Linked DNA regions of Homo sapiens. The protein of the gene in region 1 purifies or fractionates together with the protein of each later gene. This does not show direct contact. Each region holds a gene or a part of one and is shown in the gene's direction. Other genes may lie near its edges.

Region 1 (3,751 bases):
AACGTATCAGATTTTAGGTATATTTTTGTCATTCTAAGCAGTCAACACTGAGTCTTGAACATAGAAAACTCTCTAACTCTTTGCTAAATGCATTTATTTAGAATCTCCTAGCTTGGGATAGAGTTGGGATTAGTTAACTTGCTGAGTTTCCTTCTATCTCTTAAAATGTAGTCCTTCACTAACTAGAGGTTTTAAGAATCTCTGCCTTTAGCATAAAAGTAATGATGGCATATGTGTTACTCAGCTGTTTCTGTTTTAAGGGGTCTCTAAGAAGTATATGTCCAATATGAATAAAAATATTGAGTTTAATTTATTAAACAATATCTAGAGGTGTGACTGAGCTAACAATTCCATATACTGGCAGGATGCTGAGGTTTGAGTCCAACAGTAATCGTTTAACACTGAGCAGTTTAAAAAATGTTTAACCATTTGCCAACAAGTTTATCCTACTGCACTTCATTTTCATTCCTCATTTATCTCCCTCAAATATAACAACTTACATATTCATCTCTGCCCTTTAACAGTGCACATTTCCATTTCATGCTGTAATAGATTGTTAGATTCGATTGTGGCTCCAAGCTGTTATATGTGAGAAATAGGAAGTTGCGCACCTGTTTTGCTAAACAGAAGTTTTGGTTCATTCTGCTAGAGTCAGACATTACGAATTCAAGTGTGGGCTGGGTGCCATGGCTCATGCCTGTAATCTCAGCACTTTGGGAGGCCAAGGCAGGCGGATCACCTGAGGTCAAGAGTTCAAGACCAGTGTGGCCAACATGGTGAAACCCCATCTCTACTAAAAATACAAAAATTAGCCAGGCATGGTAGCGCACGCCTATAAGTGCAGCTACTCGCTCGAGGCTGAGATAGGAGAATTGCTTGAACCTGGGGAGGTGGAGAATGCAGTGAGCTGAGATCGTGCCACTGCATTCCAGCCTGGGTGACAGAGTGAGACTCCATCTCAAAAAAAAAAAAAAAAAAAAAAAAAAAAAAAAAAAAAATTCAAGTCTGGACTCAAAATGCATCCCTTTTCGTTTTTGCCTTCTATATCCTTGGTCTATGACTGCACAAATTCAAATGTTTTGCTTGGTTTGTCTTTTTAAGTTGATACTTAGCTTCAGCGACTTGACAACAGTAACCTTTAGTCTTTTAATACTTACCTGACAGTATTTGTGCATTACTGTAAATAACTAATGAGACTTATATTTTATAAACTAAATATATTTTTACATAGCTATCAAACAAAAAAATCCCTTCGGTTGTGATTCCATAGTGTATCCTCTGGTGAATTACTTTTAAAAAATTTTTCTTTTTTTATAGAGAAAAGGTCTCACTATGTTGCTCAGGCTGGTCTTAACCTCCTGGCCTCAAACACTCCTCCAGCTTTGGCTTCCCAAAGTGCTGGGATGACAGATCTGAGCCACCATGCCTGGCCTGTGAATTACTTTTATAAAGTGGAAATGTCTTTCTTTTGTGTGAATTATCTTAGTTGTTTCTTCAGATATAAAATACTGTGTGTATGTATGCATGTGTGTGTACACACCACACACATATTAAGTGCAAGCAGGAAAAATTTCAAATTAACCTATATGAGTTGCCTCAATTTTTTTAATAAACTGTATTTAATTAAACTGTTAACCAAATGCAAGCCTTAGGAGGAACTCTAAGATTCTTCTTTCTCGTTTTTTTTTTTTTTTTTAAATCTTAACATAAAAATACAAAGTGTTGAAAGTATAGATAACTTCTTTTTTCTTTTAAAAATATCCCTTAAAAAGATCCATCCATGTTCACTCATGTCTTTTTTTAGTGACTATTAAGACGTTGTGGCAGATGGGATAATTAAACTTATGTCTGTGATCAAGATAGAATTATCAACACTCCTGAGTATGAGGGTGTTAACACATACTAACACACGGCATTTCAGCTTTTTGTTAAGAAGAAAATTCCATACGATTTGGTTTCCTTCCATATTAGTTATAATGCGTTTGTCTGCATAAATTGGGTTTTATGTAGCCTGACTCAAGTGCTTGGAAAGAACTATGTTAGGTACATTATAGGAAGTGCAGAGTAGTAGACCGATTCCAAAAGTATTTGATTCAGCAAATCAATGACTTTATTGTAGATCCAATTTCTTTCTCTTTCTCTGCTTTACTCATCACAAAATTACTATTATCCAAAGGCTGTTTTTCTCCTTTGGTAATCAGTTCAATTCAGAAAGAGACAACCATCTGTTTCTGCAGTCCTGGACTGTGTCTTTCCCTTCATTCTGGTTAGACCCACCCAAGACCAATATTCTTACCCTAATCAACATCCAACTTTGGATTGGAGCTGAAGATGAGAGTGAAAACGGGAATAAAATGGATATTCTGTTGGAAAGATGAAAGAAAGGAGTGGATGGTGGGTAGGCAAACAAGGGTCTGCTATTTCTTCTTCTAAACTTTTAAAAAAATATTTATTTTTATGGCCGGGTACAGTGGCTCATGCCTGTAATCCCAGCACGTTGGGAGGCCTAGATGGGAGGATTGTTTGAGCCCAGGAGTTCAAGACAAGCCTGGGCAACGTGGCAAAACCCTGTCTCTATGCCAAAAATACAAAAATTAGTGAGTCATGTTAGCACACACCTATAGTCTTAGCTGCTTAGGTGGCTGAGGTGAGAGGATCACTGAGCTCCGGAGATCAAGGCTGCAATGAGCTGAGATTGCGCCATTGCGCTCCAGCCTGGGTGACAGAGGAGACCCTGTCTCAACAAATTTAAAAAAATATATGTTTTTATTGAGGTATAGATGACAAAAAAAAATTACATATATTTACCGTGTACATGTTATTTTTGTATATGTATATATTGTGAAATGGGTAAATCAAGCTAACTAACATGTCTATCACCACTATTCCCTCTTTATTAGCTTTTAATATATATTAGTTTTCTGAAATTTTAGATTGCTTCTGAGGTTGTTAATATCAGGAATAGTTCCTTGTAATATGCAATACTGAACCTGTGTCACAATAGATCTTAATTTCAGGTTTTCCTTATATCAAAGTATCCTCGAAAAACCCAAATGCTTATACGTTCACAGTTTTTATGTGGAGTATGCTGGAAAACTTGCTTTTTAAAAATTAAGACTAAACCTTTTGAATATTTAATTGTAAAGGAGGAAATAAAGTCTTCAAAGTTAAAATGATTTTTGGTTATGAGGTAAGTGTTATAAATAGGACAATGTTATAGGTCATTTCATGGCTTTTCTAAAAGAAGGCCTTACGTGACGTACCTATATTATATTCTTTAGCAAAGTTGTTTTCAATTTTAAGTAAGTTTCTTTTTTTGTGACTGTGGAAAATTAAATATTAAGGCCACTAAGGTCATTCTTGATTTTACCACACACAGATAATTATTAACACTTAGTGTATTTCCCCCCGGTCTTTATTTTTCTTTTCAGAATGTCCCAGTGAATAGGATATACCTTTTAGACATTAATAACACAAATAAATGCTTTGAAGCTGATGATGGATTTATTAAACATTGTGGCTTTAAGATAACTGAATATGTTAATGTTCAGCCACTCTCTTGTTAAAATTTAAAAAAGACAGTATATGGTAATAGCACATTAATAATTTGCATGTCCTAAGAAATGTGTATATATCTTTCTTTTGTATAAAATTAAACTTACCTGTGTAACCTGAGGTTATCAGTGTCCTTGTCTTTTTCGTTCTGAAAGGAAATCTTTGCTAATTTTTGTTTGAAAGTCAAGAGTTCATT
Region 2 (3,751 bases), on another chromosome or scaffold:
TCTCAAAGTGCTGGGATTACAGGCGTAAGCCACCATGCCCGGCTTTCTGGTATTTATTTTCTCAAATATTTTACAGAGCGTAACAGACCAGCAATGTGATCAAGACAGAGTCGAGGGTTTTGGGGGTGAGAGTTTCTGGGAACTGCTGCGGGTTTCCAGGAGTCTGGGCTCTCCTCCTGGGCCCTGCATTTGCTCGGAGTTGCTAGTGGTCCCGGTAGACGTGTGGGACACCCACTGGTTTTAGAATAAAAACTCGAATGAGACATTGGACCATAATGGATGAAAAAGTCAAACTCTGTCAAATATTTGAAGAGATTTATTTTTGAGCTGAATATGAGTGACCATGGCTCGTGACATAGCCCTCAGGTGACCCTGAGGACATGTGCCCAAGGTGGAGGGCACAGCTTGGTTTTATACATTTTAGACATGAGACAGTAATCAAATACATTTAAGATATATGTTGATTTGGTCCACAAAGGCGGGACAACTTGAAGTGGGGGCTTCCAGGTCGGAGGTAGTTTAAAAAAATTGTGTTTTTTTGCCGGGCGCGGTGGCTCACGCCTGTAATCTCAGCACATTGAGAGGCCGAGGCAGGCGGACAACCTGAGGCCAGGAGTTCAAGACCAGCCTGGCCAACATGTCGAAACCCCGTCTCTACTAAAACTATAAAAATTAACCGGGTGTGATGGTGGGTGCCTGTAATCCCAGCTACTCAGGAGGCTGAGGCGGGAGAATCGCTTGAGCCCAAGTGGCAGAAGTTACAGTGAGCTGAGATTGTGCCACTGCACTCCAGCCTGGGTGACAGAGTCAGACCCTGTCTCAAAAAAAAAAAAAAAAACAATTGCACCACCACACCCAGCTAATTTTGGTATTTTTTAGAGAGACAGGGTTTCACCACGTTGCCCAGCTGGGCTCAGACCCCTCTACTCAAGCAGTCCGAACCCCTTGGCCTCCCAAAGTGCTGGGATTACAGGCGTGAGCCACCGCGCCTGGCCAGATTATGTTTCTTATCAGACTTAAAGTCAGTGTTGATGTTAAATGCTGGTGAGCTTTTCCTGAATTCCAGAAGGGAGGAGGCCACAATGAGGCCTGTCTGACTCCCCTCTTCCCATAATGGCCTGAACCAGTCTTTCAGATGAAATTTGGATGGCCCTGGCCTAGAAGAGGAAGTCCATTCAGATGGTTGGCAGGCCTTGGGATTTTAATTTTGGTTTACACAATTTTGAAATTATTTGCATATAAAATTATTAGGAAAATTATTTGAAATTATTTGGAAGAAAGATTGTTGCCTGAGTTGGTCTGTCCCTTTCTACTGTGACTGGACACAAAATATCAGTTGTATTTGGTGCAGAATTTTTCTGTGGAGTTGCTCCTGAGTGAGCATTATTGTGCAGCTCTGATACTGGCCTGGCCCAGGAGCTCGGACAACCAGAGTCCTCTCTGAGTAGACACTGGTGCGAATTTAGAAATGGGACTTAGCAGGCCGGGCACGGTGGCTCACACCTGTAATCCCAGCACTTTGGGAGGCTGAGGTGGGCGGATTACATGAGGTCAGGAGTTCAAGACCAACCTGGCCAACATGATGAAACTCATCTCTACTGAAAATATGAAAATTAGCCAGGTGTGGTGGCGTATGCCTGTAATCCCAGCTACTCGGGAGGCTGAGGCAGGAGAATCGCTTGAACCCGGGAGGCAGAGGTTGCCGTGAGCCAAGATCACACCACTGCGCTCCAGCCTGGGCGACAGAGTGAGACTTCGTCTTAAAAAAAAAAGAAAAGAAAGAAAAGTTTATATGAATATCCAGTCAAAACAAACAAGGAAGGTATTACCCTTGAAATGTTGTCTATACGAATTTCCAAGGAGACCACAGGACTGTAGACTGTCTTGGAATGTCCTCAGAGAGCTCTGTCATTGATCAGGTAACGGAATAAAAACCCCAGCGTCCTTTCTTTCAAATGGGAGAGGGAAAGACAAAGGGACAGAAGCCGTTCAAACTTTGTCTTCTTTCCTTGTGGCTTGTGGTCACCTCTGCCTCCCCAGAAGCTGCCTCGCCCACCAAAGCCTTCCTGGCTTCTGCCACCACCTCATCCTCCAAAGCTTCCTCTACCTCCATCACAACCCCAAAGCCACCTTCGCCCTTAGGTTTGGCCCAGTCCAAGTTACCTTTGTTTCCCTCAATTTCACCATCTTCCGCGGCCTCCTTGGCGCTTTTGGCATCCTCCTCACTGTTGCCATCTACAGAGCCAAAGCCTTTGGGGCACCCGGTTTCCTGGTTGGTGACTACCCTTGCCCAACAAAGCTGTCGAATGACTAAAGCCTCTTCAGTGGTGTCCTCAGACAGGCCTTTGACAGACAGTTTTAGATGGCTGGCTCCTGGCATCAGGTGGTCCTTGCAACTCCAGCCTGATTGCCCTGCCCCCAGTTTCCCTTTTATTACAGGAATTTAAAGCTGCTTTATCATCTTCAAATGAAGCGAACTGTAAGTGCATGCACACCCTTTAGATTTGCCATTTTGGTTCTGGGGCACTTTGATAAAAGTTGCCTTGTCTCAGATTCTTTCTGAAGAGTTTCTTCTGTTGCACTGTAGGAGAGGTTGCTTAAACCAGAGTTTTTGATTCACCCCTCCAAGTGGTCTCTCTAGTCTTGATTTAGACCTTTCTCTCCATGATAGTGCAGGGAAATAGATCGGCCATCCATCTCTGTTCCCTGCGTTTCTTCAGAAGTTTTCTCTGCATTAGCTTCTGTCTTAACCTCAATATAAGCAGTCCCTTTACTCTTCCCATCCTTGCTGACTAATCCAATCTCCACAGCATCTTCAAACACTTTTTTGTTTTTTGAGCCAGAGTCTCGCTCTGTTGCCCAGGCTGGAGTGCAGTGGCCGTGATCTCAGCTCACTGCAAGCTCCACCTCCCAAGTTTGCGCCATTTTCCTGCCTCAGCCTCCCGAGTAGCTGGGACTACAGGCACCCGTCACCACACCCAGCTAATTTTTTGTATTTTTAGTAGAGACAGGGTTTCACCGTGTTAGCCAGGATGGTCTTGATCTCCTGACCTCGTGATCTGCCTGCCTTGGCCTCCCAAAGTGCTGGGATTACAGGTGTGAGCCACTGCGCCACTGCGCCCAGCCAAAACACTTGTAATTCATCCTGAGTGACTTTGTAAGGGAGATTTGTAGCCAAAAGTATTCTCACATCTTGCTCTTTCTTACTGTCTTTTCCTTTTGGTTTCTCTAGTTTAATTTCATTGCCAAAGTCTTTCAAACCAGCGAGTTCCAAGGCTCTTTCCAGGTCTTCAGCAGCTTGAAAATCCACATAGTCAGATTTCCTTGTCATACCCATTCTGACATCCACAACAGCAAGATCATTTTTAGCAAAAATATCATGGATACTAGTTTTTGTTTTTCTTTCTTTTTCGAGACAGGGTCTTGCTCTGTTACCCAGGCTGGAGTGCAATGGTGCTCACTGCAGCTTCCACCTCCCGGGTTCAAGTGATTCTCCTGCCTCAGCCTCCCCAGTAGCTGGGACTACAGGCACGCACCACTACGCCCGGCTAATTTTTGTATTTTTAGTAGAGACAGGGTTTCATTATGTTGGCCAGGCTGGTCTCAAACTCCTGACCTTGTGATCTGTCCACCTCAGCCTCCCAAAGTGCTGGGATTACAGGCGTGAGCCACCAGGCCTGGCCCATGGATACTAGTTTTTAACTCAGGAGCAGACTTGTTAAAGTTCAGGTTTCCAACAAAGATTGAAAGA

The links. The genes of interacting proteins can lie anywhere in the genome.
Region 2: the proteins of AP3S1 (region 1) and RABL6 purify together in Homo sapiens (affinity purification with mass spectrometry; 3 studies listed by BioGRID and IntAct, with this or other methods). This does not show direct contact.

The regions. Positions count from the first base shown.
Region 1 is NC_000005.10:115,844,877-115,848,627, forward strand, and holds part of AP3S1 (AP-3 complex subunit sigma-1), read left to right. Parts: intron 1-3,751. UniProt on the Homo sapiens protein: Part of the AP-3 complex, an adaptor-related complex which is not clathrin-associated. The complex is associated with the Golgi region as well as more peripheral structures.
Region 2 is NC_000009.12:136,810,797-136,814,547, forward strand, and holds part of RABL6 (rab-like protein 6), read left to right. Parts: intron 1-1,791; exon of another isoform or gene 1,792-2,830; intron 2,831-3,137; exon of another isoform or gene 3,138-3,379; intron 3,380-3,686; exon of another isoform or gene 3,687-3,751. UniProt on the Homo sapiens protein: May enhance cellular proliferation. May reduce growth inhibitory activity of CDKN2A.